Linked DNA regions of Homo sapiens. The protein of the gene in region 1 interacts with the protein of each later gene in a pairwise test. Each region holds a gene or a part of one and is shown on either strand. Other genes may lie near its edges. The genes, in order: VAMP4, SSMEM1, SNAP29 and KASH5.

What was found.
Region 2: the proteins of VAMP4 (region 1) and SSMEM1 interact in binary tests that used the Homo sapiens proteins (3 or more experiments, as listed by UniProt).
Region 3: the proteins of VAMP4 (region 1) and SNAP29 interact in binary tests that used the Homo sapiens proteins (3 or more experiments, as listed by UniProt).
Region 4: the proteins of VAMP4 (region 1) and KASH5 interact in binary tests that used the Homo sapiens proteins (3 or more experiments, as listed by UniProt).

The regions. Positions count from the first base shown.
Region 1 is NC_000001.11:171,704,051-171,711,079, reverse strand, and holds part of VAMP4 (vesicle-associated membrane protein 4), read left to right. Parts: intron 1-265; coding exon 266-366; intron 367-1,279; coding exon of another isoform or gene 1,280-1,335; coding exon 1,336-1,415; intron 1,416-4,661; coding exon 4,662-4,713; intron 4,714-6,545; coding exon 6,546-6,574; 3' UTR 6,575-7,029. UniProt on the Homo sapiens protein: Involved in the pathway that functions to remove an inhibitor (probably synaptotagmin-4) of calcium-triggered exocytosis during the maturation of secretory granules.
Region 2 is NC_000007.14:130,210,860-130,217,373, forward strand, and holds the end of SSMEM1 (serine-rich single-pass membrane protein 1), read left to right. Parts: intron 1-2,620; coding exon 2,621-2,675; intron 2,676-5,114; coding exon 5,115-5,611; 3' UTR 5,612-5,985; downstream 5,986-6,514.
Region 3 is NC_000022.11:20,861,989-20,869,017, forward strand, and holds part of SNAP29 (synaptosomal-associated protein 29), read left to right. Parts: intron 1-7,029. UniProt on the Homo sapiens protein: SNAREs, soluble N-ethylmaleimide-sensitive factor-attachment protein receptors, are essential proteins for fusion of cellular membranes.
Region 4 is NC_000019.10:49,398,248-49,405,276, reverse strand, and holds part of KASH5 (protein KASH5), read right to left. Parts: intron 6,253-7,029; coding exon 6,135-6,252; intron 5,821-6,134; coding exon 5,770-5,820; intron 1-5,769. UniProt on the Homo sapiens protein: As a component of the LINC (LInker of Nucleoskeleton and Cytoskeleton) complex, involved in the connection between the nuclear lamina and the cytoskeleton.

The DNA.
Region 1 (7,029 bases):
AACTTGCTTATGAGTTACAAGTCAGAAGCAGGGCTAAAAGTAAGCTATCTTTAAATATTACTTTAATTTATATCATATTGTCTTTCATTATCTGAGTACTGAAGCCCACAAATGGAAGAACATTGCTACAAAGTCTTAAATTTAAATTTTATAGTTGAATAATTCTCTGAGAATTTGCTATTCTTTATTATGTCTAATGAAAGTTTTAAAAATTGTAAGCATTCTCAAAAGAAGGATAAATAATTGTGTATCTTTTTTAAACTAGTGTTCAGAATCAAGTGGATGAAGTTATTGATGTCATGCAAGAAAATATTACAAAGGTAATTGAGAGAGGGGAGAGACTAGATGAACTACAGGACAAATCAGGTACAGATCTTCATGTATTTCTTGATATTACTAATCTGTTTGCTAGTTTTTGTCTTCTACTTGTCTAGCCAACGTTTACAAATCTTGGCTTAGGAAATTGGCATTTGGTTCTTAAGTATATGATTTTAATGGTTTAATTTTAACTCCTTTACTTTGAGTCATCTTATTGTTTCATTATTTTTTAATTGTTCAGTGGAGAATGAAGAATTTAAAATTTCATTGTTGAAGAGTGAAGAGTAGAGCTGTTTTTTCTTTTGCCCTGTGATATTGATGAACTTTGTGTTTCTCATGATCTCAGGGCCTAAAGACCTACTCACTTTTCAACACTTGTTTCAAACTTATCTGCTATTTTTATTTTATGTTTTATTTGGTAACTTAGTCACCTTTCTTTACTTTCAGTCATTACACCTATAACCTATACCTATACCTATACCTATACCTGGCACGTACTTGCCACTCAAATATTGTTTGGTGAATGGCTGAATACCTGATTAATCTTTGACAGACTTTAGAAAAAAAAAAAACACCTCGCTTAGTCACATTTAAAATGTATATTGTTTTCCTTTAAAATCAGTCACTTTTGATATCTTCTAAGAAGCTAACTTCTCAACATGTAATTTTTTTTCTAGAGGTGTGCCAAGTATTTGAATTTTTAAAGAGTATTTTTCTTACTAGATTTCCTAAGTTTATTTATAAGCATTAAGGCCCTAAAAAGACTTTTCTTAATTTTATAATAAAAAAGAAGTGAGCAAACTGATCTGCAAGCTGTTTTTTGCTTTTTGTTTTCATTTTTTTAATAATGTAGAATGCCAGAGTTTGTGGGTGGAAAAAAGGGAGAATGCTGTTTTCATGCTTAAAAGGGAATAAATTTGCAGAAGTAGAAATTAATATTTTCTTATCTTTGTGTGACTAGATAAAAGAATCCTGTTATGTCGTTTAATCCTTCTCTCCATCCTCTATGTGATATAGAAAGCTTATCGGATAATGCAACAGCTTTTAGCAACAGATCCAAACAACTTCGAAGGCAAATGTGGTGGCGTGGATGCAAAGTAAGTAAATCAGAAGCTACTGGATAGACTGGTCAGCATCTGAAGTGGTATTCAAACACATGAAGAAAAAAGGGCCTCTAGAGCATAACCTCTGTGAGAACAGGGCCTATAACTGTCCTGAGACATGGTAGAAATTCAGTAAATACTTGTTAACTTAATTGCTTTTGGGATAGGGATAACTAAATAAATCAGTATGCCTAAAAGGATGTTTTCATAGATTTTTTTAATGAAAGTAATCCACATTTTATTAATATTTGACTACCTCTAAACTTATTAACTTAAAACAAATATACATTTTTTCTTGAAATTTACTATTAATACTTTTTTGGAGCAACCTCTATAGCATTATGTAGAGATATCAAAAGTAGGAGCTAGAGAAAAATATGACTTTCGGTTGAAAGGGTAAAAAATAAAAGCTTACATATCCGAATCTGTTAAGACAAATGGAGTTAAGAAAAAACTCCACTTCCCTCATTATTCCAGAAAAATAAAAAGTAAAAGAAATTTTTACCATTTTTAACAAGGTAAACATTGGAATCACTACATACTAATATATACTCCTGCAAAACATTGTATAGAAATACATTTACTTCTTAAATCCACTGTGGCTACTAATCATTAACAGAAAATGTTTTTCACGTTATATGAGCAAATCTTTTTTTTTTTTCTCCTGATTCTAGTTATAATTTTTGGCTTTGTTTAAAATTTAGACATGAACTCACTGTTTTTAGTCTCTCATTTTCAATTTCAAGTTTAGCAATAACTCTCCTTTTTTTTTTTTTTTTTTTCTTTGAGATAGAGTTTTGCTCTTGTTGTCCAGGCTGATCTCGGCTCACCACAATATCACCGCAACCTCTGCCTCCAGGGTTCAAGCGATTCTTCTGCCTCAGCCTCCTGAGTAGCTGGAATTACAGACATGTGCCACCATGCCCAGCTAATTTTGTTTTTTTTGTTTTTTTTTTTTTTAGTAGAGACGGGGTTTCTCCATGTTGGTCAGGCTGGTCTTGAACTCCTGACCTCAGGTGATCCACCTGCCTTGGCCTCCCAAAGTGCTGGGATTACAGGCATGAGCCACTGCACCAGCCAGCAATAACTTTCTAAACCTGACTTAGCCATATGCTGAGGATTTTTTCCAAGAGTTACCTTGGATTTATTTATTTTTATTTGTCTACCTATTGAATCGTCCTACTTTCAGAAGTGGAACTGAGGGAAGAAATATGTTTCATTTCTCCCCTTGTTCAGAATTTAAATTTTCTATTCTATTTTAAGTTATTTATTCTTTAAAGAATAAATTTATTTTCTTTAAAGTCTTTTTTTTTTTTTTTTTGTGGCACTCTTGCTGTGTCTCTGAGGCTGGAGTGCAGTGGCACAATCTTGGCTCACTGCAACCTCTGCCTCCTAGGTTCAAGTGATTCTCATGCCTCAGCCTCCTAAGTAGCCCAGGTTCAAGCGATTCTCCTGCCTTAGTCTCCCGAGTAGCTGGAATTACAGGCATGCACCACCACACCTGGCTAATTTTTGTATTTTTAGTAGAGACGGGGTTTCACTATGTTGGCCAGGCTGGTCTTGAACTTCTGGCCTCGAGCAATCTGCCCACCTCAGCCTCCCAAAGTGCTGGATTACAGGCATGAGCCACCACACTTTGCCTAAAGCTTCTATATCTATAGAAATTTTCTATTCTGTGGGCTAATTTAGAAAAACAAAAAGTCCATGAGCCACTCACCCCTTCTCTCTCCCAAACTCATGTACCCTATTCATGTATCCACAAAAAGATGGTCATAATGTACATTTTGCCTAGCTTTTTTTTTAACCATTGCTAAAAATGTTTGCTTTGTACTTTATGGGGTTTGGGTCAGAGGAATAGCGTGCTTTTAAGGAGGAAAAACATTGAGTCATATTTTTAAATAGTCATCACCTTGAGAACCTCTGGGGACCATGAATAGCATCGACCATGTAATGAAAATCATTGTTCCATAATGTAACAAACACCATTTACAGTAGCGAGTATTCTTCATTTATTATTTTCTAATGCTTAGCTTCCTTCAGTTTTACTGTGCCCCATTAATACTTCATTGTGCTACTGTTCATCTGGGGCAGCCTCCCTGTGCCTGCCATTTTCTAGATTGACTTCCATAATGGTAATTTCAGAAGGGTTTTAAGAAAAAGGATATAAGGGCAGAACGCAGATCAGGAGTTGCCAGTGGCTAAGGGGGATGTCGTGCAGTTGGAGACTCACAACAGGTCATGAGGAAACTTGTTAAGGGTGTTGGTGGAAATGTCCTATATTTGATTGTGGTCATGTTTATTAACAGCTGGATATATTTGTCAAAACCTATCAAAAGTATTTTAAGAGGATAAGTTTTATTCTTTGTAAAGTGTATCTCAATATACCTGGCTTTAAAAATAAATGAGTTAATAAAATTATCCATAGGTGGGGAAAGAGAATCGCTAACACCTCTCTTAATATATCTGGGGGCTGTGAAACTCTTATATGTTTAATGACAAACAGATTTTTGTTCATGTTATTTGGAATAAGAGAGCTTTGGACTTGCATGAATACAATACTGCCATTTGGAGCTGTAAACATTTTCTGCCCAGTGTTAGAAACCCAAGGAAGAAAACTCTATTCATTGAGGTGTTTTAAAATTGATATTGATGTTTTCATTCAAATCTTCTTAAGTAAAGCCAAACACACGTTTAACAGGGCAAATTAATGTACATTTCAGGTAAAGTTGAAAAACTACCGTAGAAATTCCAAATTGTTTTAGAAATGCTTCAGATTAATAAAAAAGGCTTAAAGTACTTTATCATATAAACTGAACCTCTATGATTTGATGGGCTTATTACTAATGTGAGACCAGAGAAAATGTACAGTATTTTAGCAACTCTGTTCAAGTGTCAAGATATGATGAATAACATAGGCCATGCAATTCAAATGGTTCAATACATCGAAGGTAGCAGTTTATAGCACTTTTTTTCAAAGTATATGAGAATTCTGTTAGTTTTTTCTCCCCTTACTTTCTTCTTTGCATTTTTATCTCCATTTTGAGGAATATATTTTAGATTCTTTATGAATAGCCTCATGTAATAAGCAACTTTGCCTAAGAGCATTCTGTGTCAGTTTTGTAGTTAAGAAACCTTAAGGTGATGAGATGATTTAGTATGATGCAGTAAATAGAACAACAAATAGTCTTGACTTTATTAACAAGTCAAATATTAATATATATGCCCTTTTGTGTGTTGTAGATAAAAGCCATCATGGCTTTGGTTGCTGCTATCCTTTTGCTAGTGATTATCAGTAAGTATTTATTGGATTATTACTTCCTAGGGTATCATTTATTTTGGAGTTCATTTTAATTCCCTTTTATTTTCAGTTGACCTAGTATGTCTGAAGTCAGGATTGAATAATGACTTCTGACCTGTCTCAGGAGCTCTTAGAATCTATTGATCTCTGAAAATGCTCTTAAGTAATATGTAAAATTTTATGTGAATATGTATATGTACATTTTTATGGAGAGAGGGTCTATATCTTTTGTCAGATTCTCAAAGGGAACTCCTGTTCTGCCCCCAACCCTCACCCCCAAATCCAGGGCTAAGTGATTTGTTCAAGGCCAAATCTGGTTCCTATTACACTAAGGTCTAAAATACTCATTTTCTATTTATTATTAACTCTCAGGAATGGCAGTTTGCATTTTGTAATATTGTTTTGGAAGTATAAATCCAAATACGTTCTCCAGATGATTTTTTTTTGTTTGGTTTTTGTTTTGTTCTGTAGTTGAGCATAATTTCCATCATTAAAGCATGACTCCTTCCCGTCCTTTTTCCCTTAATGTTCTTTTAAAAATCAGATCATTTTAAATATCTCTTTTTCTTCAAGGCCTCTGCCTATGTTTACAGAGAGGTTTTATGACGCTTTGGAAAGTATCTAAAAATAATCATTTGAAAAATTATATTATGCTGTTATATTTTTAAACAGAAAAAAATGTTTTGTTACAAAGAAATACAGTCAGTCCTCATTATTCATAGATTCCGTGTTTGCAAATCCAGTTACCAGGTAAAATTTATTTGTAACCCCAAAATCAGTACTCATGGTGCTTTCACAGTCATTTACAGACATTTTCAGAGTAACAAAAAATTGTAAGTCCCCCAACCCACACATCCCTAGCTGAGGTTAAACAAAGCCATTTCTGCCTTTTTATTTCAGCACTCATAACATAAACATTCTTTTTGTAGTCTATTTAGTACCACATTTTCTGCATTGTTGTGCTTTTTGTTGGTGATTTCACTGTTTAAAATGGTCCCCACACGTGGTGCTGAAGTGCTGTCTAGTGTTGCTCAGTACAAGAGAGCTGTGATGTGTCTTCATGGAAAAAATACACATTAGGCAAACTTTTGTTCAGGCATGAATTATAGTGCTGTTGGCCTTGAGCACAGTGTTACTGAATCAATAATACATATTAAATAAAGTGTCTTTAAACAGAAACACATATAAACCAAGGTTATGCATTGATTGACAAAAATGTAGTAGCCAGAGACTCACAGGAACTTAACCCTATATTTTCCCTAGAAGCAGTGGTTCCATATTCACTAATTTAGTGTTTGTAGTGACCTTATAGAAAATAATTACCTCAGAAACCAAGAATCAATCATGTATATATAGTGAGCAATTGGAAAATGTGAAATATTAATAACAAAAAGAAGAAAAATTCAACTATAATCTTACAATTAGTAGAGATAGCTACTAATATAACTATTATATATACTTCTCTTTTCCTATTAATATACAAGCATGTTTTTTAAAAAACTAAGACTATATTATATGTACTTTCTAATAAATATATTGTGACTATTATCCCAGGTTATCAAAATTTTTAGTAATATTTTAACAGCAGATACAAGCTATGGCTATGCCATTATTTATTTAAGATGCCAATGTTAGACATTTAGGTTGTTTTATGATATTTTTTGCTTCTCCTTTCCCATTGATTATTTATTACCTCAGATAAAAGTTCAGTCAATCCTCATTACCCATTTCTAAAAGTAGACACAACTACATTTAGGAATATTGCTTCAAACATAGCATATATATCTGATGTTGATATATTGCTTTTTTCATGTTTTCTCTTACAGTTCTTATAGTCATGAAATACCGTACTTGATTTGATGACAGAGATCTTCATTAAACAAGATCTGGGACAGTAATAAAAGATTGCTGCATAATTTAAATGAAACCTATGTGTATATAACTTTCAAAACTTCTTTTTCAAGAAACTAAGAGGCAAGTATCACTTCAAATTGGAACGTTGAGAATGTCCAATTATCTTCTCCCTTTCTAACAAAATGTTCTTTTAATAATTATGTTTAAGGCAAAGAGAACTAGCCTCTATTTTTCCATATTTCAAGGATCTAATTTGAAACTAGATACTTGCCAGTTCATTATTTGTGTATATAAACACTGATTATAATATTTCATATTAATATTTTAATGGCATAAGGACTTGCATTATTGCATTAGGGAGCGGGTCATGCTGGGGGTCAGGAAGCCTGTGTAGAGTACCAAATTATATGCTGAAAGAGATGCATAACCATTCTGTCAATATTTGCAGAAATATAG
Region 2 (6,514 bases), on another chromosome or scaffold:
CTGTGGAAATGATATAAGCCTAATAAGTGTTTTTAAATACCTTCTCCTGTCTATTACAAAAGTACACATTATATAGAAAATGTGGAAATTATAGGGCAGAAGACAAAATAAAATAAAAATCACTCCAGATTATGTAGAAATAACCAACTACTGTTAACTTTTAGGTTTATAAACTTCCAATTATTTTGATTTTCTTTACATATATTAAATTTATTTTTTTCCTTTTCTATAACCTAAGTGATACATATTAAATTTAAAATATTTAAGCCTCTTCCAAAAGCATTTTTTATAAAGTGGTATCTTTTTTTTTTTTTTTTTGAGACAGAGTCTCGCTGTCACCCAAGCTGGAGTGCAGTGGTGCAATCTCTGCTCACTGCAAGCTCCGCCTCTCAGGTTCACACCATTCTCCTGCCTCAGCCTCCTGAGTAGCTGGGACTACAGGCACCCACCACCACACCCGGCTAATTTTTTTTGTATTTTAAGTAGAGACAGGGTTTCACCGTGTTAGCCAGGATGGTCTCGATCTCCTGACCTTGTGATCTGCCCGCCTCAGCCTCCCAAAGTGCTGGGATTACAGGCATGAGCCACCGTGTCTGGCCAGAAAGTGGTATCTTAAAAGTGAACTCCGCTTTCAAGATTTTTGGAGAATGATTGCTGTAACCCAGAAAACAAAAAGGCACCTCATTAAAGATGCTTGCCTACCATTGCAGAGATCAGATATTAAGAATGAGCTGAGGATCTTAGATTGCAGTTATAAATACCGAACTATGGCACTTTTCATCCCAAAGAAACTGGACTTCCACATAAACTCATTTTTTTCCTAATTGTAGACAATTTGAAAAAATTAGAAGAGAAAAAGTCCATTTCACCACTTAAAGCCAACCATAGCTATCACTTTTATATGCTCCTTAAAGTCTTTTTTTTCATATTTTAAGCTAATTTGTCGCTCAAGCTGTATATACAAATTTGCATCTTGATGTTTAACCCAGTATGGTAGCACACTTATTTCCTCATGTTATGACATACTTTTATTATAATAATTTTACAACTGTTTATTATATAATTGTACCATAATTTACTTAAACCATTGTCTACTTTTGAATTTTCTATTATCCTAATTATACTGTGATGAATGTTTCTGTGGACAAAGCTTTCTTTCTTCTGAGGGTTATTTCTTGCTGATAGATTCCTGGAGAGAGAATTATATGTCAAAGGTGTTAATGAAAATTTCTAGTTTTTGTTATTTTCTGAAAGAGTTGGTTTATATCTGTGTCTTTTGGCAAAATCACTTTCAGCATTAGAAAGTGGGACACTAATCTGAAAAATGGGACAAATATATTTATGGAGTATTGGGGGGCAGAATATTTGAAATTGAAACTATTCAAAGAAATCCATTTCTTTTGGTTGCTGTATTCACAAATAATATATCATGATTACATTTTGGAGGAAACTTTCGGAGGGATTAAGGAGATATTAAGTTCATGAATTCGGTAAAGATCTTTGTGTATGGTAGATGTCTTCTGTCTTAAAGAACTATCAGTAATGTACCCTGATCAAGTGTCCTTTAAGAACTAAACTAATCTGGGCCAGGCGCGGTGGCTTACATCCGTAATCCCAGCACTTTGGGAGGCTGAGGCAGGTGGATCACCTGAGATCAGGAGTTCGAGACCAGCCTTTTCAACATGGAGAAACCCTGTCTCTACTAAAAATACAAAATTAGCCGGGCGTGGTGGTGCATGTCGGTAATCCCAGCTACTCGGGAGGCTGAGACGGGAGAATCACTTGAACCTGGGAGGCGGAGATTTCAGTGAGCTGAGATCGCACCATTGTACTCTAGCCTGGGCATACAGAGCAAGACTCCGTCTCAAAAAAAAAACAAAAACAAAAACAAAAAAACAAAACAAAAAAACAACAACTAAACTAATCTGAGTACTATCAAATTTTTTAAAAACACTACTTCTCTGTAATGTAAATGGGTACAGGAAAGCTTTATAAGCTATAGCTCCTTGTCAGTGTTATTTTCTCTCAAGTCTGTTCCATTTTGTTTGGTCCAAAACATTTTGGTAGATGCTGCTATCAAAGCATAGTCTTAATGGGAAGTGGAAGTAGGATCACTATAACAGGAACTCAATACATACTGAATTAGCTTATTATTTAACTCAGTAAGTACTTGTTTAAACTGAATGTTTAAAATTAGACATTGTCAGGCCAGGCCCAGTGGCTCATACCTGTAATCCCAGCACTTTCGGAGGCCAAGGTGGGCAGATCACTTGAGGTCAGGAGTTCAAGACCAGCCTGGCCAACATGGTGAAACCCTGTCTCTACTAAAAATACAAAAATTAGCCGGGCGTGGTAGCGGGCACCTGTAATCCCAGCTACTTGGGAGGCCGAGGCAGGAGAATCACTTGAACCCGGAAGATAGAGGTTGCAGTGAGCTGAGATCATGCCACTGCACTCCAGCCTGGGCAACAGAGTGAGACTCTCCAAAAATAAATAAATAAAATAATAAAAAAATAAAACCAGACATTATAAATGGGCCTCAGCAATAGTGTTTTATAACAAGTACATATTATCAAAAAACAACTGAGATCACTCTTACTAACCTATGTTTCTGAAACAGATGTCTGAGGATAAAAAGGATGAAGGCAGTGGGACAAGTACTTCAGTAAGGAAAGGTGAGAACCAGTGCATATTTGGTGTTGGACTATGAGGGGAAGAATATGTGTGGTGTTGCATGCCTGTAGTCCCAGCTACTCAGAAGGCTGAGGCAGGAGGATTGCTTGAGCTAAGCAGTTCAAGACCACAGCTTGAGAACATAGTGAGACCCAGTACCAAAAAAAAAAAAAAAAAAAAAAGAAAAGAAAAGAAAAAGAAAAAAAGAAAAATGAAATAAAGACAAAGAAAGAAATTTGTGCTGAGTGTGGAAAGCAAAAAACAGAGATGAACAGCCAACAGCATTGTAAGACTTTGCACACTAGAGGAGGCCCATTGGGGTTGGGTGAGTTTTTGCTTTGGACTCCCTAGTGCAGAGGGACAGTTTAGCTGCTTAGCAAGAAGCTATGAATTACTGGGAGGTGGAACTCAAGTTCTTTTTTCACTCCTTAGCTCTCTCCCTTCACATTGCTTGCCCTTCCCACATCCTCATGGTTAGTGCTATTACAGGATTATGAACTGTCTATGACATCTTTTTCAATAACCTATAAGCAGTGGTGCACTGGTAAATGTTTAACAACTGGTTCTCCAAAACTCCTGTGTGTACATATGCTTACTAAAAATTTTACTGATATAAAGGTTGCACGTCATCTCAGCACCTCCAGAGGCTGAAGCAGGAGAACTGCTTGAGGCCAGGAGTTCAAGATCAGCCTGGAGAACATAGCAAAACCCTGTCTTTTTAAAAAAGAAAATTAGCTGGCATGGTTGTTCGCACCTGCGGTCTCAGCTACTCAGGAGGCTGAGGCAACAGAATCACTTGAGCCCAGGAGTTCGAGGCTGCCAGTGAGGCATAATCATGCCACTACACTCCAGCCTGGGCGGCACAGTGAGTCCCTGACTCTAAAAATTTAATAAATAAATAAATAAAAATAAATAAATATATATCACACCATTTAAAATAATAAAATATACAATACTCCTTATGGCCAATTTCATATAGACAACTGATTCTCACAAAACGCTCTCCTTCATTTTTGCCAGACCCTTGCACCTTAGCCAACCATGGCTGCAATTGATGAACAAGTATAGTTCCAGCGTGAATGTTATTTTCCTCTAAGTTAAGGAGTGAGATGAAAATGAAGCAGAAGATAGATGTATGTTGGAACTTAACTTGGTTGTCAGTGATGTGAGTGACTTCTTTGCTGGAATGGATAATAGTTCTAAAATACTGGAAGAATATTTCCTCATTTTGCAGGGTTAGTCACAATGTAGTGGCTACAGGGATGATACTGAAATGTAATATGTAATCTGCATTAGTAACATGTTCTCCATCATTTTCTTAAGCCTAGACAATCAACAAAGCCATACATCAAGCCCTGATGTTTAGTGTCTGCTGATTTTCGTGGTATAAATACTTCCACCAAAGCTGATTTTAAGCTATCCACCTCATGTCATTGAACATGGAGTTGGGAGGAGATGTGCAGTAGTGCACCCTTAACATAGAATTTCCGCCGGGCGTGGTGGCTCACGCCTGTAATCTCAGCACTTTGGGTGGCCAAGGAGGGTGGATCTCCTGAGGTCAGGAGTTCGAGACCAGCCTGGCCAACATGGCAAAACCCTGTCTCTACTAAAAATACAAAAAAATTAGCTGTGCATGGTGGCACGTGCCTATAATCCCAGCTGCTGGGGGGCTGAGGCAGGAGGATCACTTGAACCTGGGAGACAGACATTGCAGTGAGCCGAGATCGTGCCACTGCACTCTAGCCTGGGCAACAGAGCGAGACTCCATCTCAAAAACAAAAAAAAACAAAACAAAAAAACAGCATAGAGTTTCCAGCATCCAAATACAACGGACATAAAAAACCAGAAGAGCACATAGCATAAACAAATGTAGTAAGATAATTAGGAAGTGATGGGTTTTGAGTATTACCTCTATTTTTAGTAACTTAATTTATTGTAAGTTGGTATAATTTAATTTTTAATAATGGCTATGTTTAACCATCTCTCAAAATTCCTGAAAGTTTATCAGCTCTTCTGAGCAGGTACAAGCCAACTTCCTCACACCACTACGTAAAGGAAAGATCCTTCTTAGTTCCTGCTCCCCAAATCACATTCATATACCTGCTTGAATCTGTAAGACTTCAATTTTCAAAGGGAAAAAAGAGTTCTTCCCTGGAAAAGTTTAGAGATCTTTTCCTTTGACCTTATGTTTAGCATCCACAAAACTTCAAAAGTGATATGGTGATATGTCAAGCATCTATCTAAGCTCTCTGGTCTGCAGGAGTTGGGATATGGTACTAGAAAATGCAGTCAGCTGCCAACACTTGCAGGTGACTGGAGAAAAGCAATGGCTTGACAACTGGCCACTAAGAGTGAGCTCACACGTGCACAGGCTTCTTAAGTAATAGGAATTCATAGTAACCAACAATATTACTAACTTGATATGTTTCATTGGTTGTTAGCAAGCAAAGAGACTTCCTGTAAGCGGCAAAGCAAAGACAGTGCCTGGGATCCCTCACAAACAATGAAGAAACCAAAGCAGAACCAACTTACCCCTGTAACCAACTCAGAAGTGGCTTTGGTCAATGCCTATCCTGAACAAAGACGAGCCAGGCGCCAGTCTCAGTTCAATGAGGTGAACCAGAACCAACATGACAGTGATACTACGGAGTATGGCAGTGAAGAGTCTAACTCAGAAGCCTCCTCGTGGAAGGAGAGTGAAAGTGAACACCACCCATCACCAGACAGTATTAAGAGGAGAAAAATGGCTCAGAGGCAAAGGAATCTGGGAAGTTACCAAATGAGCGAAAGGCACTGCCTCCACTGCAAAGCCTTGAGAACCAACGAATGGTTGGCGCACCATTCCCGACAGAAGCCTTCAGTAACACCGCCAATGAAAAGAGACAGTCAAGAGGAAAGTTCCATATCTGACATTAACAAGAAATTTAGTAAATTTTGAATTTTATCACGTTCTTCCTTCACTTGAAGCCAAATGAAAGAGATGAATAAAACATGAAAAATCACCAGAGCTATAGGTGAGGAGACTTTTACAACAAAGTCTCTCTACCAACAAACAAAAACATACTTGGAACCCAAGAGGTAAAATCTCACACAATTCTTCGTTCAAAAAAAAAAAGGCCATCACGTGTTTATGGCACCATTGGAACACCAAAGATCTATATCTGCTATGATTTTTTTATTTGAAATAGCACAAGACAGATATTTTGTGCCTTGAGTGTATATATTTTGTGCCTTGAGTGTATGTATTTTGTTTATGTCTGTAATATGAATAAGAAAGCTCTTTGAAAATGTATTATTTATGTTGAGAAACCACTTAAATGTATTCAGATGTTTTGCTTATCTGACTGACTGAATGAACTAGGTGAAGTTGGTTGGAATAGAATTGCCCCATCCTCTCTAGGTTTGACCCTACAAGAACTGTATTGCCACACATGTCAGCTAGGGGCTGGTGTGGAAGAGGAGCTCAAGAGGCTGGAATAAGATCTGATTCCTGGAGTAGGGAGGAGAGGCAGCATGACCCAGAAGGCAGTTGGCAGTGGGCTACCCACGGTTGTCATCCACAAAGTGCATGGCAAATGTTAAAGGAAAAATTATTCTGACACTTGTTAAAATGGCCAGGAGGACTTCATTCAAGACTCTATTGCAATAGAGAGTAGAAATTGAGCTCCACTCTGAATACAACAAGGACAAGTGGGGATTTATAGCCAGGAGCAGGAGGAGGACATCACAGGATGGGAAATTACCAAAGAGAGACATCAAACATAGGAGTATTCCTGATAAAGTGACCTAACAGGATTCATGCTAAAGGCAGGCCAAGGACTTACACATCAAAAGTGGAGAA
Region 3 (7,029 bases), on another chromosome or scaffold:
CAAACGCCTGACCTTAGGTGATCTGCCCACCTCAGCCTCCCAAAGTGCTGGGATTACAGATGTGAGCCACTGCGCCCGGTCCTAACCTTGTTAGGGAGGTTTTGCCTGTAGTTCTTACATCTCATACCTACTGGATTCCTATGTTCCATTCTAAATGGGAAGTCTTGGCTTAGATTTGAGAGGATTGCCTGAGGTTTTAGGGCCCTGGTGAATGGGTCACATGATTGAGGATCTCAAGCCCAAGGAATTCAACTAACAACTATTTAAGGAGACATCTTTGTAAACTGAGAACAAATGAAGTAGGGAATCAATGATTCAAAGTAGGGCATTGTGGCAGAGGATAAACTTGAATCTAGCTTTTAAGGCTGAGGTTTACACAAGAGGAGTGAGAATGAGGGATGTTCTTAGGGAAGACAGGAAAATATGCAAATGCACTGGCCCAGCAACAGAGCTCCTGGGTCCAGAGGAGGGACATGATAGACTGGGTGTGTTAGAGGACAGGGGATGGAGGAGGTAGCTTAGGAGCCCTTGGAGGTCATAGGGAAAGTTCTGGTCTCATAGCGCAGGAGAGGCAAAAATGTAATAGTGGTGAGTTTGATATAGATTGTGATGACATGCCCCGTGCTGCCCCCAAAGGTCTTTCTATGCAGTGGGGACAGTGAGAGCTGAGGCAGAGTGGCACTTCAGGCATATCAGGCTTGGCCAGGCCAGGCATTGCTGTGAGAAGTACAGTGTGGTCATGACTGGGCAGGTGACAGGTGCTCTTGTCAGTGAGACAACATGTTGGAATTTTCCAGGATTGGGTCAGTTCTCAATTATGAGAAGCCCTGGGAGTCAGGGATGACCTACATCTCCACCACACCCAGTGTTCTCCAAGCTGTCTTTGTTTTTGTGTTTTGTTTTGGGGGAGGTTTTTTGAGATGGGGGTCTCACTCTGTCAACCAGGCTAGAGTGCCGTGGTGCAATCTTGGCTCACTGCAGCCTCTGCCTCCAGGTGCAAGTGATCCTCCTGCCACAGCCTCCCAAGTAGCCAAGACTACAGGTGCACGCCACCACACTCGACTAATTTTTGGTATTTTTGGTGGAGATGGGCTTTCGCCATGTTACCCAGGCTAGTCTCGAATTCCTGAGCTCAGATGATCTGCACACCTTGGCCTCCCAGTGCTGGATTACAGGCTCCAAGCTGTCTTTGAATCACTCTAATCACTCTTTCATTCCCTTTGGTGTTGGGATGGGAACAGAGGAGTATGAGCTCTTCCAACCCTCAGTGCACAGTGTGGCTTCCAGCAAATTCCAGCATACCCTGCTAATCACCCAACTTAGGTGCCTGGTTACCCCAGCACTGTGAAACATGCCAACACATGACAGATTTATGTCAAAGATGAGGACTTTACAAATTATATTAGGTTGGGAAGATTATAATTCAGTCCCAGCTTGGCAGGAAAATGGCTTAGTTAAGTCACCTCTAGCAAAGAGAGCTGCCCTTCTCCTACTGTGAAACCTGGCAAGGATTGTTTCTCACAAAGGCTCAGGCCACAGGCTATGACCACAAAAGAACAGAGGAGAAGTAGTGGGAGCAGGGCGGTTTCCCCAGGCCGACCTGGTAGGCGCTTTGTAGAACTACAGGGAGACTTGTAAGCCACTCGTCTCTTTCCCTGTTTAGTAAGCATGATTTCTTCTTTTTTTTTTCCTAAGGTTTAATTTTTATGAAGAGAGATTCCAATCACATGGTTCAAAATTTCAAAACATACAAAAGGGTGTAGTCTTCTCCCACTTCCCTCCCTATCATCCCTCTGCCCCTAAGGCAGCCAGGCACTTTCCCTCCTTCAGTGTTTTGGGGAGATAATGCCGTGGATAAAAATGGGTTTTTTTTTTTAAGTGAAGTATTGTATACATTCTGGTCTGCATGTGCTTAATAGAATGGAGTTTGTTCCACACTAGTATGTAATGAGCTGGGCTTTCTTTTTGGCTGTGTTGTATTCCATTGAACAAATGACTTCTATTTATGCAGCCTGTCCCCTAATGATGAGCATTGAGGTTGTTTACACCTTTTGGTGAGTCTATTTGCATCCTACTTGGACATGGTTTTTGTACACCTTTTCATCACTCCAGTGGAGGAGACTCACCTGCCCAGGACACTCTGCTTCCCCTCTTGTAGCTGAACTTAACTCCACTGAGGTTTTCTGGGGCCCGAGATCTCGGTTCAGGGGAGTCCAGCAACAAACATTAGACCAGGGTTGGAACGGCTGGCACAGTAACATCAATGGAAAGGGACAGAGTTTGAGAGTTCAAACGTGATGCACTCAGCAGCCACCGCCAGCACATCCTCCACACCGTCTCGTGCAGGGGCCCACCCATCTCTGTGTCTTTCCAGCACACAACAGTCACCCACACTGGGCATTCCATTCAGAGGTGGGAGAGAGGAGGACACCCCTCCTGGCCCAGGAGCAGAGGCCATCAAGGTGTCCCCGGAACTTAGAGTAGATACATTGCCAAAAGGTGATATCCTCATTCTCAGGGATTCTGGTCTTGGAGCAGCCCACTCCAAATGAGGGGCCGTACAGACCAAAGTCACCCCTCTGAGGCAGCGTGTGGTGATACTGATGCAGCCAGAGTTCTTAGCAAAAGTTGATGGATGGGGACAAGCAGCTGCTAGATTAAGTAATTCCTCAAATTTGTAAATGTCAGCAGTGGAAGAGGAGCAGTCTCTTACCCATCTCTTGCTCAACTTTCTACCCCCACGCTTCTCAGCACAATGTCCTTAAGCGTTATTGGCGCTCCCAAAATAGTTGCCAAATGAATAAGTGACCTGGGGAAGGAAAGGAAGGAGGGAGGGAACAGAAGATTGCCTGAAAAAGGAGGAGAGAGTTGGGTGGAAAGAATGCATTGAGCTGTGTGCCTTGGTTGCAATGCCTGTCCTGTGACCAGAAAATGCATCCCAACACATGTCAGGCTGTGTCTAGCAGGTGGGAGGGAGTCTGGTGGAGAAATGGCATTGGACCACATACTCACCGCTAGGTCTGTTCGGGATTTATTTTTAATTAATTTTTGGTAAACTATCAATGATTGAATTTGACCATTGATGGCCAGGTGTGGTGGCTCACACCTGTAATCCTAGCACTTGGGGAGGCTGAGGCAGGTGGATCCCTTGAACCCAGGAGTTCAAGATCAGCCTGGGGAATGTGGTAAAACCCTGGCTCTACAAAAAATACAAAAATTACCTGGGCATGGCGGTGCATGCCTGTAGTTCCAGCTACTCAGAAGGCTGAGGTAGGAGGATCTCTTGAACCAGGGAGGTCAAGGCTGCAGTGAGCTGAGGTCATGCCACTGTATTCCAGCCTGGGTGACAAAGTGAGACCCTGTCTCAAAAAAAAAAAAGAATTAGACCATTGATCCCAGGCCAATTTGCTGGCTTGTTGGCTGTAACAGGATGCCTTCTGAGGATGGGCTGGTTGTTCGAGCTTCTGGCTTCTCCTTCCTGGGCACATCCACTCACAGCTGCCACATTGTCCCAAGGAACCTTGCTTTGCTGACCAGGAAACATGCTGTGACAAGCTGAGCGGCCATCTGCTATACAGCTTTCTGCCTCTGAGGTGTTCTTAGAGTGGGAAGTGTTGTAGGGAGGTGTTTGGGGGTTCCCAAGACTACCCTCAACTTCACTGATTCACTGGAAGGATGCACAGAACTGTTACACGTATGGTGATGGTTTCTTACAATGAAAAGATGCTGATTAAAACCATCAAATGAAAAAAGTGCATAGGGCAGCGTCCAGGGGAAACCAGGCACAAGCTTCCAGTTGTCCTCTCCCCATGGAGTCATGTGGACAACACTTCTCCAAGCAGTGCGTGACAACACACACAGAGTATTGTCAACCAAGGACCCTCACTTAAGCCTGGGTGTCCAGAGTTTTTTGGGGAGTCTGTCACATAGGCATGGCTGAGTATAGTCTCCAACCCCACCAGAGGTCAAGCTGATAACGTGTAGCCCAAGGCCACCATCATATATCACATTGTTAGCATAGTCTGTCTGACCTGGTCTAAGCTTAGGCTCACTTGAGCAAGGACACTCTTATCAGGCAGGATATTCCAAAAACAAGGAACCAGGCTAGGGCCACACCTCTCTTTGGAATGTGGAGTGTATGGACAACCCAGAGCTGCTGAGCTAGCCTTTTGCTCAGCCCCAGGTTGGCCTGCACACAGACGGCGAGGGGCACCAGCACTACCGCCTTTGCCCTTGGTGGTTTTTCCTGCACCCTAAGACCCGATTTGTCTCTGAATCCACCCCATACTCCAGCTGCCACAGTCAGAGCCCCGGGTTTGAGCATCTGCCATGGGTGCTCACGTATCCCTGCCAAGGCTTGTGCCTGTGCACACTCCCTTGGGAAGGGAGAGATGGAACAAAGATAAATTTCAGATTTCTAGATTCAGCTCACTGACTCCAGATTGGCCTCCGTCTACTTATGATGAACCTCATTTATCAGAACCTGAGTTTACGAGCTCAGTATGAGAAACACAGTATTGATGCCCTTCCGTCAGGAACCTGGGGAGGTCTCGGTCACGGAAGCCCACCTGATGTTATAAGATGTGTTGGCTGCGAGTTGCAGTTGAGATCTGTTGGTCACTGCTGCCCTTTGAAGGCCTTAGTGACATCCTGTGGGTGTTCCCTGCCGAGTCCTGTGGGTAGCCCCGCTCACTCCCCACACGGTTCCTCTGCCCCTGCACAAGCTGCACCCTCTGCCTGGTGCCCTTGCCCCACCCCAACTCTTCGTTGTGATTTGTTTTTAGGAAAACTAAGTCCAAATGGACAGGACCCCCAACTTTCTGACTGCCTAACTTCTCAGTCTCTCCTCCAGCCTCAACAGGGAGCCTCTCTGACCCCCACCTTAAGCTAAACAAAGAGTCTGCAGGGAGAGGTGACTCTGTGTGTGTATGTGTTTGTGTGCACGCGTGCAGTAGCTTTAGTTTCTGCCTCCCCCACAGGACTGTAAGCTCAGTGAAGCAAGGACTCATCTGCCTTTCTTGGATTCCGAGCATTGCAATGTTGTCAACAAATGAAAAGCTGAGATTGAACCTCACTCATCTTGCTCTCTGTTAGACTGTAAACACCATCAGGACAGAGACTTGGGATTGTTTCGTGGACAAAGAGAGAACTCTTGTTGGGGTTCAAGGGAGTAAGAAGGGCATCACCTGTAATGCTTAGTAATCACTGAAACAAGGAAGCACTTTGCATGTGCGTCCTTTACACTGAGGGCACCTGCGGAGCTCACTCCCCTAGCAGCCACCCAAGTCCGTTCAGGGACCTCATTCTCCCACGGGAAGTTGGAGAAGATGGGCCGTGGCTCTGCGGAGGGGGGTGTGGACCTGCCTCGGTACCTGGAGCGGTTGAGGCCTGTCTTGGTGGTGGCTGGGGCACAGGTGTCTGCCTGGCCTGTCCTTACAGACTGTCAGTGTTCTCTTTCCTGGTATTTTGGTGTTTGCTCTGTCAAACCCTTCTTCCTCATTGGTTGGAACTAGGTCACAAGCACATTAAGTCCGGTCATTTCCTCTGCCTTCTGGGGGTGGATTTTAGCAGAAGAAACAACTCCTCCCTTGCTGGCCTCATGACCTCTGGTGAACACTAGCTTTCAGCAAACAGAAACTTCCAGAGGCCAGAGCAGCACTCAGTCGCCTGGCCTTCCAGCCTCACAGGCAAGATAAGCCACCCTCACAGACTTCTCTGTGCTCCCATCTAAACATCTAAATCAGCCATCTGGTTTCCTTAACAGTAGCACAGACTCTGGGAGTTTGAGAGAATGTGTCTCTTGTGAATAAGAGAAAATAAGTCCATACTGGGGAAGGTAGCTCTCCAAATTGAGATGAGGAGGTCAGGGTGGGAGGGTGAGTGGTCGTGGGTTGGCCCTGATGGGAGGAGCTCACCATCAGGGAAGCTGAGGACCTCCCTCCTAATGTGACAGCAGAGTCTTGGCCACCTCTTCATTCCCCAGTCCCCAACCTGGCTGCTCTGAGTGTCTTTCCAGCTACTGGAAAGCTTCTTCTGCAGCCTGCAAAGCTAGCTGGAACTGGACTGTCAGAAAAACATGTAGATGCTGGAGAAAATCTGTTAATCCTAACGTATAGCTCTGCCTTATTCCAGAGAAGACCGCAGTGTGGACATGAAGATGATAAACTTGAGGTGATGGAAGGAGCAGAAATGCCAGATACATTAGCAGCTCTTTTTTCTTTTGAAAACTAGCCCTTGCAAGATTTGCTTGACATACTGAGTGACACTATCCAGAAAACATCTTTTTTTTACTTAAAAAAGGCTGATGGTTTGTTCAGACATCTCTTGTGAACTAGTGAAAAACATAAACGTTGAAAGCTGTAAAATTCAGCAGTTCTAAGTTTATTTCCAGCAAGAGTTAAACAAAGTTTAATAGTAAATTCAACCAACCAGTGTTTTAGCTTTTTGCCTATACATTATGTTTTTAAATTTCACCCATTAAACAAGGACTCAGGTTACACATTGATTCCTTAAGGACTTTAAGGAAGCCACAACCATTTATTTATAGTTGCATTTTGCTCTTCAGGTTTCCAGGATGTTTAAAATTTTTTTTGACTTTGTTTTTAGGCATCAAGAGAGAATATATCTAAAAAACATTTGCATAGTTAGTGTAATTGCTAAGCCACAGGGTGATGGGTGGATAGATTCAGAGGAAGGCAGCTGAGGGCAGAGGCTGCCTGACAGAGCAGGAAAAATGAAGCTCGAGAGCCTTCTGGCTGGAAAGGCAGCTCACAGATGGGCCGCAGCTGTAGATCAGTTCTGAACTAGGGACTGAAGCAAGTTTGTCGTAAATAAAGGAAAGTGGTAGTGTTGATGTTGTGAATGTATATCCACAACCAGAACCATCAGCTCTGGAGGGACCATCAGGCTGCCACTGTGGCCACAGAGCATCACTCACGTCTCCATTGGGCAGATTTGCAGAGACTCAGCAGTGAACAGAGCAAGTCCCTGCCTCGTGGAGCTCATATGCTGTGAGCGGTGGCTCATGCC
Region 4 (7,029 bases), on another chromosome or scaffold:
CCACGCTGGCCAGGGTGGTCTTGACCTTCTGACCTCAGGTAATCCACCCTTCTTGGTCTCCCAAAGTGCTGGGATTACAGGGGTGAGCCACTGCACCGGGCCTGTGCTCCTTTTTCATTTTGGTTGTCTCAGAGATTTCTTTACATTTACTTTGATTGAGGGTCCAAACAAGGTCCATCATTGCTTTTGGTTGAAATGTCTTACTTCTTTTAATCTGACAGTAATTTCTGCCCCCTCCACCCCGACCCTGGTACTCTTCAGGCCCTCATTCTGTGGAAGAAAGCAGGTCCCTTGTCCTGTAGGATTGGTGCGTTCAGATTAGGCTGATTGCGCTCTTGTTCCCTGTGGTTATGTTCACCACTTTCCTCTATCATTATTTCTTATAAACTGGTAGGTAGATCCAGGGCCTTGTCCAGACTGTTGTTCAATTTCTTGGCAAGATTGGGTGGTGCTATACATATCAAATTGTGCCATTCAGGAGTAATGCCAAGTCTGGTTGCCCTATTAATAGTATAATCATTTCCAATTTTATAAAGGAGTAGAGAGGCTAAGAGACTTGGCAAGGTCACATGGTAAATGGACTCAAACCTAAATCTGTGTGATTCCAAATTCTGTTTATAATCCTCAGACTCTCATGTGAGCCAGACACAGCCCTGGGTGAGAATGGGACACAAAGGGAATTAGGCTCTAGAGGTGGCGATGGATGCAGAAGCGGGTAACAATGCACGAGGTGGGCTCTGGTGAGGCCTACAGCCTGGGTACCATGGGAGCACTAACAGGCTTCCTGAGGAGGCGTTGCTGAGTCTTCAAGGCTGAGGGCAGTTAGCTGGGAAAACAATAGGCCGGAGAGGGCAGCCCATGCCAGCCATGAAATGGGACCTGAACATAAAATGGCCCAGATTCCAGTCTAAAGTTTAGGGGCACCAAAAACCTATCAAGTTGCACAGGGTTTCAAAGCGAGGTGGTCACTGGGGAAATGCACTTTGGGGCATGGAGGCAGTCCAGAGTTCCCTTTCACCACGCCCCTCCTCTTGGCACTCCAGGGGATACACCAAGGCCAGCCTCTCCCTCCCTCCAGCCAGCTCCAAGTCCTCCATCAGCTGCTCTCCCTCTGTCTCAGTGGGCCTGGGCTGCCAGGTGAAGGGCAGAGGAAGGACGGGAAAGGAGTGCTGTCTCAACATCTGTCCACCTGGTAGGGATTTGCAGGCCAGATCCTGGGCCACTCGGCAGGGAACCTGGTTACTCAGCTGCTCCTGCCTCCTTCTGCAGTAACCTGAGACAGCTCTGTAGGTTCTCCACAGGAAGGCTGCCTGGATCTTCAGTGTCTGAGTGTCTTGTTACTCCAGCATTATTCTACTGTAACTTGAGAACTCAATCTATAGATGCTCTGTAGGCAGCTGTGTGGAGGGGGAAGGTAGAGGGGAGGGAACCAAGAATAGCTCCAGTTTATCGAGGGCCGAGGGTGTCCCAGATGCTGCTCAAGGCACTCAACCTGGCAGCAGGCCTTCCTGGTGGGGAGGAGGTAGAGATGAGACTGCTGGTTGCTATTTACCCTGCTTACTCCTTCTGCTTTTGTCGAGGGATCTACTCTCTCTGTCTGAGGGCAGATGGGTCCCAGCCCCAGCCATGGGAGTGAGTCAAGGTGGAAATCTTGGCAGATGCAGGAAGCTCAGCTGGTTAGCTAAGCCAGCAGCCATTCTCACCCCTTCTCACTTGTTCACCTGCCACTCTAGAGGCTGAAAAAGGTCACATATTCTCCTGGGCTCCTTTGCAGCTGGGGGCGTTATGTCAGCCAGTTCTGGCCAGTGAGATGTAAGAGCTGCTGGGGGTGGGGTGAGAGGCTTCTGATGAAAGGAGCCACGAGAGGGGCATTTCCTGGCTGCCCCCCCCCTTTTTTTTTATTTTGAGACAGAGTCTTGCTCTGTCGCCCAAGCTGAGTGCAGTGGCACAATCTCGGCTCACTGCAAGCTCCGCCTCCTGGGTTCACGACATTCTCCTGCCTCAGCCTCCAGAGTAGCTGGGACTATAGCGGCCCGCCGCCATGCCCAACTAATTATTTATTTATTTATTTTTTGTATTTTTAGTAGAGACGGGGGTTTCACCATGTTAGCCAGGATAGTCTCGATCTCCTGACCTTGTGATCTGCCCGCCTCGGCCTCCCACAGTGCTGGGATTACAGGTGTGAGCCACCGCGCCCAGCCTCATGGCTCCCCTTTGCCCCACGTTTTCCTACTTTGAATGAGAACATGAGATTGAAGCTGTTGCAGTCATCTGCAATAATGAGGCCACAGGCAGCCAGGGAGCCACCAAACCTCCCAGAGACCACCTTCTTCCCAGAGACCACCTTCTTCCCAGAGACCACCTTCTTCTAAACCTCTGGTTAAGGAAATGAATGTCGTGTAGATTGAAGTCATCATTTCTTTGTTCTCTTCCCTGGAGCGTTCTGGACCCATTAGTGGCCATATTATCCATGTAGTCTGGTTATAATGGCTGAATGGCAATGAACTGTAAGGCAGGAAGTTCTGCCAGGGGGCTTCAGGGAAAGTTTTTCATTTTTAAAAATTTTTTTTGAGACAGAGTCTCGCTCTGTCACCCAGGCTAGAATGCGGTGGCACAATCTCAGCTCGCTGCAACCTCTGCCTCCTGGGTTCAAGTGATTCTCCTGCCTCAGCCTCTCAAGTAGCTGGGATTACAGACGCCTGCCACCACGCCTGGCTAATTTTTATATTTTTAGTAGAGGTGGGGTTTCACCATGTTGGTCAGGCTGGTTTCGAACTCCTGACCTCAAATGATCCACCCATCTCGGCCTCCCAAGATGCTGGGATTACAAGCGTGAGCCACTGTGCCTGGCCTTTCATTCTTTTATTTACTTTTTTTGTTTTTTTTTGTTTTATAGAGACGGGCTCTCACTATGTTGCCTAGGTTGGTCTCGAACTCCTGGCCTAGGCAATCTTGCTTTGGCCTCCCAAAGTGTTGGGATTACAGGTGTGAGCCACCATGCCCAGCCGGAAAGTTTTTCTTTTCCTTTTTTTTTTGAGACTGAGTCTTGCTCTGTCGCCCAGACTGGAGTACACTGGTACCATCTTGGCTCACTGCAACCTCTGCCTCCTGGGTTCAAGCGATTCTCCTGCCTCAGCCTCCCGAGTAGCTGGGATTACAGGTGTGTGCCACCACACCCGGCTGATTTTTTTATTTTTAGTAGAGATGGGGCTTCACCGTGTTGGCCAGGCTGGTCTCGAACTCCTGATCTCAGGTGATCCACCCACCTCGGCCTCCCAAAGTGCTGGGATTACAGGCGTGAGCCACTGCGCCTGGCAACTTTTTCATTCTTAAAAAGGGATGTTCTGAAAGAAACTGTCACATCCTGCTGCATTCCATGTCTCACATGGTACAGCCATCCTGCTGTGAGATTCCCATTGCCCCAAGGGGGTGAGTTTTCATGGAAGAGCCAGAAAATAGCAGAAAGATTTTGGATTTCAGTGTAAAAAACACTGCACATGTAGGACAAAGATATTTTTTGGGAATACATGATCTGTCTGGACTAGGCAGAGATCCTTAGAGCTGGGGGAGGAATGCAGGACAGACAGAGAAGAGAATAGGCTGAAAATGAGCCCAGAGTTTTCCCCTAACCCAGGGCTAGCTATGAGGGGTGGAGGGTATGGATGGAGAACCGCAGAGCCCTGGAAGTCTTGTGATCTGAGAGGCCTTGCGTGTACTTCCCAGAGCACTCTCAGAATCATCACGGTGTGAGAATAATAGAGATGCTACTTTCTTGTGAAAGCAAAGAGGCCTCACTGGTGGGTCCTCTCCAGACCTCTGCCCACCCCAGCCCTGTGTCCTCCAGTCTGTCAAGGCCTGGGTGGGGTTTGGGATCCTTCAGGGAAATGAGTGACGGACAGGGACTTTGCTAACAGCTCAGGGAGAACAGAGGAATCTCTCTCCTGTTTCTCTTTCCCCAGAGAAGCCACATCTCCCCACCATGAGCACCCACCCTGGCCTGGGGAAATGAGGCAGGGGCTTTGGGCAGTGACCCCAGCCTCTTCCCTTTCACAGGAAAGTAGCCAAATCACCTCCCTGGCTCTGGAAGGGTGTGGAAGTGGTGGAGTAAGAGTCCCAGCCCAGATAAGGGATCACCACCAGAAGATGAAGAAGATGGTATGTCCAGAGATCCAAAGGCAATGCGGGCCTCACAGTAGATGCCAGCACACAGTGGTGACAAACGCTTGGACAAAACCCATCAATCTCATGAACAGCAGAGAGGAGAAACATTGAGTGAGGATCAGCAGCCTCCTAGAGCACTAGGCTCCTGCATCAGTCTCCTGCAACTTAGATACCACCTTGAGGTCGGGGGTGGTGACAGGTTTCATTGTCAATTGATGAGTTTGTTTCAATCTAAAAAAAATTAGGTGGGCCCAGAATGAACTAAGATGATGTTTTTCTGTCTTGGATGGAACGGGGCTTGAATTAAATGTGAAGCTGAACTCAGTCTCTTCATATTGTTTGCTAGTCCCTCAGTGAAATGCTGTCAATCCTCAAAACAAGCCTACTGAACAGATACCCTTCTTCCAGTTCTTTGAAAATAAAAGTAGGTCAGGTGTGGTGGCTCATGTCTGTAATCCCAGCATTTTGGGAGGCTGAGGTGGGCAGATCACCTGAGGTCGGGAGTTTGAGACCAGCCTGACCAACATGGAAAAACCCCGTCTCTACTAAAACAAACAAACCAACCAACCAACAAAAAAACAAAATTAGCCAGGTGTGGTGGCACATGCCTGTAATCCCAGCTACTTGGGAGGCTGAGGCAGAAGAATCACTTGAACCGGGAGACGGTGGTTGCCATGAGGTAAGATCGCGCCATTCCACTCCAGCCTGGGCAACAAGAATGAAACTCTGTCTCAAAAAAAAAAAAAAGAAAAAAAAAAAAAAGAAACTAAAAGTAAAGGCTTGAGAAGGAGAAGTCACATGCTTAAAGGTTGCCTATTGTGTAAGTGGCGGAGATGGGATTTGAACTCAAGGTTGACTTCAAATCCAATTTTTTTTTTTTTTTTTTTTTTGAGAGGCTCTCGCTCTGTCATCCAGGCTGGAATGCCATGATGCAATCTTGGCTCACTGCAACCTCTGTCTCCCGGGCTCGTGCAGTCTTTCCACCTCAGCCTCCTGAGTGGCTGGACTACAGGTGCACACTACCATGCCTGGCTTATTTTTCTATTTTTTGTAGAGGCAAGGTTTTGCCATGTTGCCCGGGATGGTCTCGAACTCCTAGGCTAAAGGGGTCCACCCAGCTAGGCCTCCCGAAGTGCTGGGATTCCAGGCATGAGCCACTGTGCCTGGCTGTTTTATTCACTGTAAAAAATACTAATATAGAAACAATGCTAGATAACTTTTAGTGAGCACATCCTATGTGTCCTACCTTGTGCCCAAGACTTTGCAAGTATCCTTCGGTTGAAGTCTCACACAAACCACTGAGGCAGATGCCATTGTTTTGTTCATCTTTATAGGTGAGGCAACTGAGGCACAGAGAAGGGAGGCACTGGTCCACTCTTATGTAGGTGGCCTCAGCCTGAAGCCATGTAGGCTGACCCCATGCCTCACACTCTTGTAAACCACGGCTGTTCTCACAGTGTGATATAACCTCAGGGACATTCCCACACTACTGACATTCTGAGGTCTCCCCAAGACAGGCTGCTGGGGTGTTGGGGGCAGAAGGGAGTGGTGTCAAGAAGACCTTAAGGACTGGGGAAGGGGTGGGGGTGGTGCTGGGCCTCCGCTCACCTCCTCCTGCAGAGTCTCCATCTCAGCCACCAGATGCTGCTGCTCCTTTTCCTGACCAACCCCAGAGAGAGGACAAAGGTTTCATTTCTAGCCTCCTTGCCCCCATGTTGCCCTTCTCCCACCCCTGAAAACACAACCAGGGCCTGGGGGAATGGGTCTGGGAAGCCCTGATGGCTCCTGCTGTCTCCTTTGTCATGAGAAGGATGGCAGGTAAGCTTGAAAAAGTCTAGGGTGAGCAGGGCCTGGAGAGAGGGAGAAAGCCAGGTGACCTCTGCCCCTTCCTACTCCATAGTCACACTCTGCCGCCCTGACTCCAGGAAACAAAGAAGAGAGAGGGCACCTTCCTTCCCCTGGGCCAGACCCACCGCCTGCCGGGCTTGGGCCAGAAGGCTGCGATTCTGTTCCTCCAGGCTCCTGGCCAGAGTCTTCAGGTCCTCCAGCTCCTCATCCATGGCCTTGGCAAACTGCAGGGCCTGCTGGGTGCTGAATGCGGGTGGGGGCAGATGAGCCATACGAGAGGGAGGAAGGCAGAGAAGCACAGAGACAGATCCATTCTGAGAGACACTAGCAACAGAGAGATCCCAGGTGGTAGGCAGGGACAGAGACCCAGAGAGAGGGGAGGACAGAGACCCAGAGAGAAAAGAGGAGAAGGAGACCTGGTGTGGGCACAGAGACCCAGTTTTAACCTAAAAGACTGAGGAAGTGGGAAAGAGACCTAGAGAGAGTGGGGGACTAGAACAGGGAGACCACGATAAACATGAAGAATGACAAAGCACAGAGAGATGAAAGGGCGAGTGACATGAAGAATCAGAGAGTTAAAGAATAAAGAGAGAAATCTAGGCTGGGTGCAGTGGCTCAGGCCTGTACTCCCAGCACTTTGGGAGGATAAGGCGGGAGGATGGCTTGAGCCCAGGAGTTTGAGACCAGCATGGGCAACACAGTGAGAACTCATTTCTATAAAAAATAAAACAAAATTAGCCAAGCAGGGTGGTGGGCCTGTGGTCCCAGCTACTTGGGAAGCTGAGGTGGGAGGCTCGCTAGAGCCCAGAGGCGGAGGGTACAGTGAGCTGTGATCACCCCCACTGCACTCCAGCCTGGGTGACAGAGTGAGAACCTGTCTCAAAAAAAAAAAAAAGAGAGAGAGAGAAGTCTGAACCCTCAAGGGAAAGATAAAAAGACCAAAACAGAGGCTGAGAGATAAGAATCAGAGAGACACAAAAGATAAAAACAGAAAAGGGAAAAGAAAGGACAGGTACAGAG